2 linked regions of the Homo sapiens genome follow. The protein of the gene in region 1 interacts with the protein of each later gene in a pairwise test. Each region holds a gene or a part of one and is shown in the gene's direction. Other genes may lie near its edges.

Evidence for each region.
Region 2: the proteins of EI24 (region 1) and PGRMC2 interact in binary tests that used the Homo sapiens proteins (3 or more experiments, as listed by UniProt).

Annotation. Positions count from the first base shown.
Region 1 is NC_000011.10:125,575,233-125,580,464, forward strand, and holds part of EI24 (etoposide-induced protein 2.4 homolog), read left to right. Parts: intron 1-30; coding exon 31-176; intron 177-1,022; coding exon 1,023-1,083; intron 1,084-2,271; coding exon 2,272-2,338; intron 2,339-2,503; exon of another isoform or gene 2,504-2,674; intron 2,675-2,900; coding exon 2,901-3,025; intron 3,026-3,716; coding exon 3,717-3,836; intron 3,837-4,860; coding exon 4,861-4,972; intron 4,973-5,232. UniProt on the Homo sapiens protein: Acts as a negative growth regulator via p53-mediated apoptosis pathway. Regulates formation of degradative autolysosomes during autophagy.
Region 2 is NC_000004.12:128,274,314-128,277,813, reverse strand, and holds part of PGRMC2 (membrane-associated progesterone receptor component 2), read left to right. Parts: intron 1-3,500. UniProt on the Homo sapiens protein: Required for the maintenance of uterine histoarchitecture and normal female reproductive lifespan. May serve as a universal non-classical progesterone receptor in the uterus.

The DNA of each region.
Region 1 (5,232 bases):
TAATAATAATAATGATAGCCTTTTCTATAGGGAATCAAAGACTCCATCTGGGGTATTTGTACCATCTCAAAGCTAGATGCTCGAATCCAGCAAAAGAGAGAGGAGCAGCGTCGAAGAAGGGCAAGTAGTGTCTTGGCACAGAGAAGAGCCCAGAGTATAGAGCGGAAGCAAGAGAGGTAAGGAGTGCATGCCTGATATCAAAATGTCCAAGGGAGGGAAGACCTTACATAGTGACTTGATGTTTCAGTGCCATTTTATTTCTTTTGTGCTTTTTCCCAGAAAAATGTTGCAAGTGATTTCCCCCCAACAACATTGACTTAAACTAGGGTCTAACAATAATCCTTGCTAAAAATGTCATGGTGTTAAATCAGAAAGCTGAATAGAGAATCGCAAAATATTATTTGGTTTGATAGATACTTCTAGGGAAGCCTGTGTGGATTTATGTATTAATAGAAGAACCCTGGCCCCACACTTTCTCTTAATCTTTTCCATCATCAGACTTTAGAAAATAAATTATTTTTCTTTTAAAAGCTGGTTCCATATATATACACATTTTTTTTTTTTTTTGAGACGGATTCTTGCCCTGTCACCAAGCTGTCACCTGAGATTGCCGTGGTGCAATCTCAGCTTACTGCAGCCTCTGCCTCCCAGGTCCAAGCAATTCTTCTGCCTCAGCGAACCGGCTGGCTGGAAGTACAGGTGCGCACCACCACGCCTGGCTAATTTTTTATATTCTTTAGTGGAGACAGGGTTTTGCCATGTTGGCCAGGCTGGTCTCGAACTCCTGACCTCAGTTGATCGCCTACCACGGCCTCCCAAAGTGTTAGGATTACAGCCGTGAGCCACTGCGCTTGACCATTTTTTTAGTCTTTTCTCATTGACTGACATTAGAACATTGGGAGAACATGAGGCACTGAAAAATAATACAGTACCCACAAAAGATAAGATATAAAATGAACTACTGAATGACAATTAGGAAATAACTTATGCTTTATAAACTAAATACATGTGATCTTTTCCAGTGAGCCACGTATTGTTAGTAGAATTTTCCAGTGTTGTGCTTGGAATGGTGGAGTGTTCTGGGTAAGTTCTTTAAATTCCAGGTGCCTTATAAGCATCTTCAGATTGTTGCTGGGTTGATAGCTATGAACTGTTTTCTTGAAACACTGAGACAAATAGTTTTCATCTGCTGATGTACACTTAGAAATATAACTCAGGAGTCTGTGCATCTGCAGAGATTTTATTCCCACTCAGGAAAGCACACTTATATGTAAGCAAACGTCACAGCCCTGAATATACACTTGAATTTTGTTTCTAAAATGACTCATTCACAAGTATTAGAGGTAGCAGTTTCTCTTGACACTGTCTAGACATTTTAAAATGCTAACAGCAACTATGGGGACTCGGGAAGGGCAGATACGGCTAGACAAGAACAAGGTTCTCCCTGCTTCTGCTTATAGTGATCAACAAGAGTTAATTTGCATTGAAACCTATAGCAGAAAAGATTGCCTACCATTTACTGAGAATCCCAGTGCAGGCTTAACTGAAATTTGGGTACTTTGAAGAATGGATAAATATTTCCTTTGACTTAGAATTTAGAGTAATTCATCACTTCTTAATCTAAACAATTCACAGATGTTTTCAGATGTTAGTTTTAAATTTAATTAATATGTATTCCTGTGTACTTAGTACATGCCTGTATTTTGGCCTGAATACTACTTGAAATGTTCCTGTATGCCCCCAAAAGTTTCATTGTTTTATAGGCAATATCAAGTTTGTATCTCTCAATTGGAGTGTTGGGAAATAGAAATGGATCCAGTTTTGGTGCTTTTTCAGGCCTCCTGATTTATTTTATTTATTTATTTATGTATTTATTTGAGATGGAGGCTCGCTCTGTTGCTCAGGCTGGAGTGCAGTGGCATGATCTTGGCTCACTGCAACCTCTGCCTCCCGGGTTCAAGCGATTCTCCTGCCTCAGCCTTCCCAGTAGCTGGGATTACAGGCATGCACCACCACACCCGACCAATTGTTGTATTTTTAGTAGAGACGGGGTTTCACCATCTTGGCCAGGCTGGTCTCGAACTCCTGACCTCAAGTGATCTGCCTGCCTTGGCCTCTCAAAGTGAACCACCGCGCATGAGCCACCGCGCCCGGCCTAGGCCTCCTGATTTATAAAAGTCACTCCCATCTATAAAATCATTACACTAAAAATTGAAGCTCCTGTTTTAAAGACTGGATTTTGATGTTTGCCTTGTTGCTTCTTTTCTTTAGTTCAGTCTCCTCTTGTTTTATCGAGTATTTATTCCTGTGCTTCAGTCGGTAACAGCCCGAATTATCGGTAAGTGTATACCCTGCTCCTTGTCTGTTGGGGACAGAGTGGGAGATGATGTTTCAGTCTCCCTCAGTTTACTGAACATTTCCTGTGTACCAGGAGCTTTCACTGTTTATTTTCTTTTTTGTTGTTTTATTCTTTTTAAAAATTTATATTTCGTTATTCTCCTAGAGGCCCTTTAAGAATGGGTACTGTTGTTCTATCCATTTTATGAATGAGGAAATGCAAGTTACCAAGGTTAAACCATTAGTAAGAGGCAAAGCTGAGATTTAAACCCAGATGGTATCCTGCAGATAGCGTACTGGTAATCACTGTGGCATCTCGTTACCATCATGTAAGCAGGTTTGTGTCAAGCAGCACATATCTATGGTTTCTTTGAATTGGAATTGTGGCCAGAATGTGGTGCGTCTATTATGAGTTAGACTCTTTGAGATAGGTATAGTGATGTGCTGGCAAGAACTAGAAAGATCCAGGAGGAGACAGAGAATAGTCACGAGATGGGGGTTCCGCATTTGGTCTTCTGGATTTCCATTTCTCCATTTCTAGTAACTCGTTTCCTCTTTCTTAGGTGACCCATCACTACATGGAGATGTTTGGTCGTGGCTGGAATTCTTCCTCACGTCAATTTTCAGTGCTCTTTGGGTGCTCCCCTTGTTTGTGCTTAGCAAAGTGGTGAATGCCATTTGGTTTCAGGTAGGTCCAGGGCAGAATGGAGTCTGGGTCCCGCAGCATGATTGGCTGACAGGTGACAAGTTTCAGCCTGTGAAGTTAGTGGGCATGTAGGGGGACCTGTTTTTCAGCCTTAATGTTTCTTGGCCAGGTAGCCAGTAGCTGATCTTTGTGTTCTTACAGAATGGAATTATTGTCTCAGCATCTCATTGGCAGGTGTCTGGTGCCTTTTCTTTTTCGTTTTGGCTTTTTTTTTTTTTTTTTTTTTTTTGAGACAGTCTCACTCTGTCGCCCAGGCTGGAGTGCACTGCAACCTTTGCCTCCCGGGTTCAAGCAATTCTCCTGCTTCAGCCTTCCAAGTAGCTGGGACTACAGGCACGTGCCACCATGCCTGGCTAATTTTTTTTGTATTTTTATTAGTGACAGGGTTTCACCATGTTGGCCAGGCTGGTCTCAAACTCCTGACCTGCTGATCTGCCTGCCTCGGCCTCCCAAAGTGCTGGGATTATAGGCGTGAGCCACGGCATAAGGCAGCAATCCTCCTACCTTAGCCTCCTGAGTAGCTGGGACTATAGGCACATGCCATCGTGCCCAGCTTATTTTTAAATAAGCCTTTTCTTAACTGGCAGCTCTAGTGGCGGACTAGTGGCCTTAGCTTTGGGGATGTATATCAAGGCCATTTAATTCATGTTTTGGTACACTTTCTCTGTTACAGGATATAGCTGACCTGGCATTTGAGGTATCAGGGAGGAAGCCTCACCCATTCCCTAGTGTCAGCAAAATAATTGCTGACATGCTCTTCAACCTTTTGCTGCAGGCTCTTTTCCTCATTCAGGTGAGACTGACCTTCTGGGCATATGGGCAGCTTTATTAAAAAGAAAAACTGTTTCACTAGAGAGAACTTCACAAAGACAGAGTATTATATTTATACAGAGTATTATATATATGCTGGTGGGAGGTAATGATTTTTAAATCTTTTTTTCCCCACGGAAATGAGAATTTTAAAATTACATTATAAAATTATAAGAAACATGAATTTACCTGCTTTTTTCTGCTACTCTGGTTATTCTCCAGTCCTGCCAGGTGGAAACTTTTTTTCTTTTTATAGTTATGCCTAATTTTTTTTTTTTTTTAAAGAGACAGACGGGTCGGCTGGGCGCAGTAGTTCATGCCTGTGATCCCAGCACTTTGGGAGGCCGAGGTGGGCGGATCACCTAAGGTCAGGCATTTGAGACCAGCCTGGCCAACATGGTGAAACCCCATCTCTACTAAAAATACAAAAATTAGCTGCGCGTGGTGGCAACATGCTTGTAATCCCAGCTACTCGGGAAGCTGAGGCAGGAGAATCGCTTGAACCCAGGAGGCAGAGATTGTAGTGAGCCGAGATCGCGCCATTGCACTCCAGCCTGGGCGACAAGAGCAAAACTGTCTCAAAAATAAATAAATAAATAAAAGACAGGGTCTTATTTTGCCACCTAGGCTGGAGTACAGTGGCACAATCATACCTCACTGCAGCCTCAAACTCTGGGCTCAAGCAATCCTCCTGCCTTAGCCTCCTGAGTAGCTGGGACTACAGGCACATGCCATCATGCTCATTTTAAAAATCTTGTTGTAGAGACAGGGTCTCAGTATGTTGCCCAGTCTGGTCTTTAACTCTTGGCCTCAAGAGATCCTCCCGCCTCATCCTCCCAAACTGTTGGGATTACAGGAATGAGTCACTGTGCCCACCCTGCACTCGGCCTTTTAGAAACTTGAGAAGCAGCTAGGAAGCTATCTCAGACAGTGATTGGAGAGTGACAGGTGAATGGTGCTAGGTTTCCGAGGCTTTGGGATTAAGATTTTCCATATTTGTTCTTCAGGGAATGTTTGTGAGTCTCTTTCCCATCCATCTTGTCGGTCAGCTGGTTAGTCTCCTGCATATGTCCCTTCTCTACTCACTGTACTGCTTTGAATATCGTTGGTTCAATAAAGGTAAGTCCATCTAAAGAAATCCAGAAAATGGAGGCCCAGTTTGGAAATGCTACTGCTAAGCAGACTTCTTAAACTACTCATAGTCAGGCTTTTGGCAAACAATCCTTTGAGGGAAGCAGCCTCATTGGCAAGAGGGAGCTTACCTTCGGCTTAGTGGGTTTAACTCTCAACTTTGAGGCTGGGGGATGTGGTAGTATGGCATTATCTTTTTGGTGCTTAACATGGTATATCTCTGACTGGGTTGTAAGATGGCATAAATG
Region 2 (3,500 bases), on another chromosome or scaffold:
GAGGTATTATTTCAGTTTTACCATACTGCATTCTCTCTAAAAGTCTTGGGACTTACTGGACCTAAGCATAAAAAAATTTATTAGTTCAGTTAATCACTTTTACATATTGCCTCATTTGTTGATAGGCTGATTATAATCTTATTTGAAATAAATTACCCAATACTAAGTGTTATTAGTTACTCAATTTATAATCACAAAAGATTATTGTCAAAACAGGCCTGAAAACTGCACTGTTGATAAACTTTAATTAATTAAAGTTCATCTCTGAGAGATATGGTTTTTAAACTGTGAGAATAATTAAAATATCCCTTTAGAAACACTAAGGTAGCTATATAATCATCCTAATAATCACAAAATTATCTGTTACTACATATTTACTTCCTCCTGGAATTTTCTGTTTATTAAATTAATATTTAAAACATTTTACAATGAGCATATGTTGTTGCTGTTTCAAGAATATGTCACCTCATTCTAACTGATTGTATTAAAGTAAGCAGTTTTAGGATACGGTAACAAATAGGTTTATTGAACTTTAAAATATCTTGACCACAAGTTGGATTGACACTGAAAACTAAATGAAATCTGAATTCTGACTAGTATAGTACTTCATGTTGGGTTTGTTTTGTTTGTTTGTTTGTTTGTTTGTTTGTTTGTTTTGAGATGGAGTCTCGCTCTGTCGCCTAGGCTGGTGTGCAGTGGCGAGATCTCAGCTCACTGCAAGCTCTGCCTCCCAGGTTCACGCCATTCTCCTGCCTCAGCCTCCCAAGTAGCTGGGACTACAGGTGCCCACTACCATGCCCGACTAATTTTTTGTATTTTTTAGTAGATACTGGGTTTCACCACGTTGGCCAGGATGGTCACGATCTCCTGACCTCGTGATCCGCCTGCCTCTTGTTGGTATATTTAACAATAGCTTTGAAATAAAATTTATCTTTAAAATGATGTCCTTGAATATTTGTTATGTAAGTATATTTCAGAGTATTTGCTTTGACTGAATAATGCTGTTCATTTTTTGTAGCACGAATTTGCTTAAAATTGGGAGGCTGTTTTTGGATCAGCATTATATTTTAATATTTGATAAAGCAACAGAATTTAATTCTTCTAGTTACTACTGAACTGTTAGTGTCTAAATGAGCCTTAATAATAAAAAATAACCAGATCATGTAAACTAGCCTTTTTAAAAATAAATTAGGCTGGGCACAGTGGCTCATGCCTGTAATCCCAGCACTGTGGGAGGTTGAGGTAGGCGGATCACCTGAGGTCAGGAGTTCAAGACCAGCCTGTCCACCATATATGGTGAAACCCCCTCTCTACCAAAAATATAAAAATTAGCTGGGCGTGGTGCCACACCCAATAATCCCAGCTACTTGGGAGGCTGAGTGAGGCAGGAGAATCACTTAAACCTAGGAGGCAGAGGTTGCAGTGAGTTGAGATCACACCACAGAGTGTGACTCTGTCTCAAAAAAAAATACTAATACAAATAAATAAATTATACCATGCAACAGACTTAAACCATTTCAAATTGGCTTTATTTGGGGAGCTCCCTATTGTTTTAGTATTATGAATAGCCAAGTATACTTACCAAATATTAGAATTGGTAAATATTTAGGTTTTTTATGTAAGGGGATAACGGAATGGGAAGGTATTGCTGACTTTTCAGATAAGCTCCTGGTTGTATTATGAATGCAGGGAAATCTCCTTTTATTAGACATCAAATCCTTCCTCAGAATAACCCATCCAGTTCCAACTTTAGTTCCTAATGTTATATTCTTTAATGGCCTTACAGAAGGCTGGGCATGGTGGCTTAGGCCTGTAATTCTAACACTTTGGGAGGCAAAGGCAGGAGGATTGCTTGAGGCCAGGAGTTCAAGATCAGCTGGGCAACATAGGGAGACCTTGTCTCTACAAAAAATAAAAGAAATTATGCAGGCCTGGTGGGCCATGCTTCTAGTCCCAGCTATTTGGGAGGTTAGGGCAGGAGGATTACTTGAGCCCAGGAAGTAGAGGCCACAGTGAAATATGATTGAGCCGCTGTACTCCAGCCTGGGTGACAGAGTAAGACCCTGTCTCAAAAAACAACAAAAAAAATTTTTTTAATGGTCTTACAGGAAAGAGCATAGAAAATTATTACTAAAAAGACCTTTGCAGAAGTTAAATGCTTCCTGAGGGAAATTCTAAACATATGGAGAAGACAGCTTAATATAGTTTAGGGAGTGGGGGAATATGTTAATCACTGAATTATTCTTTTCTATTCAAGAGTCAACAGAACATCATTTGTCTGGAATTTGGCTTGGATTATTAACTGTTGACTCAAGTTCACTCTTACCAAGTCAATCATTCCCTACCCCCAGTACCCCAGAAAGAGCATATTTTATGAAATTTTTTATTATTATTATTCATTCAGTGTTGAAGCTTTCTTAGGGAAGTTGGTAGAGAAATTAATAGAGAATGCACTGGTATATATTAATATACTCAAAGATGGAGGGCTTTCTGATTGCTGTTTTTATAATGATTTTATCTTCTCTCCTTTGTATCATTTAAATGTGTTTTATGGCTTATACTCTGAAGTGCCTGAAGTAGATTAATGTTTGCAGGCCATGGAGATAAATACTATAATAGAATGCTTAGAAAAGCTATTAAGTAGAGCTTTTTTGTTAATTCTCTTCCATTTTGATTTAATAAGTATTCTAAAATTTTCATTCCCTTGAAATTTTGTAAGTAGTAAAATGCTCCAGTTTTCATGGTCGTTACTCCATCTTTGGGCTTGTGAGTCTTCTATGTGTTTTCTTGAGGTACACTGGAGGATTTAGGAAAGTGGAAATAGTACTCTCAGTTCTGTCAGTAATTTTAGGCAAATCACACTGAATGCCTCCGCTCCTGTTTTTTATCTGCCAAATGGGGAAGGCAGTCTGTCCCTTCCACTTTGGGAAACTCTGAGAGAGAAAAGTGAGGTTGCTGGAAAATTCTTTTAAAAATTGAACCTATAATTTTCCATTTGTAGATTGTTATGGCCTTTATTAGTTTTATTTTTCCTTTTGTATGTTTCACTTTTTGCTTTTTTAAGTTTATAAGCATTGGTCTAGTCAGCATTAAGGGTAAATATAATGTTTATAGATTTTTTTTATCATTGTTTCTTAGAAATTTTTATTTTTAAACACACTAGTTCTCTGTCTCTGTCTCTCTCCTTGTCCTCCTGAAAACACCCATTGCCACAAAGTGTGTAGAATTTTGCACGCACATGTGCATGTACACACACAGACATAACTGGTTAATACCTTTTTTTTTTTTTTTTTTTTTTCTTTGGAGAAGGAGTCTTGCTTTCTCGGCCAGGCCGTAGTGCAGTGGCATGATCTCAACTCACTGCAACCTCCGTCTCCTGGATTCAAGCAATTCTCCTGCCTCAGACTCCTGAGTAGCTGGGATTACAGGCGTGCGCCACCACAGCCGGCTAATTTTTGTAGTTTTAGTAGAGATGAGGTTTCACCATGTTGGCCAGGCTG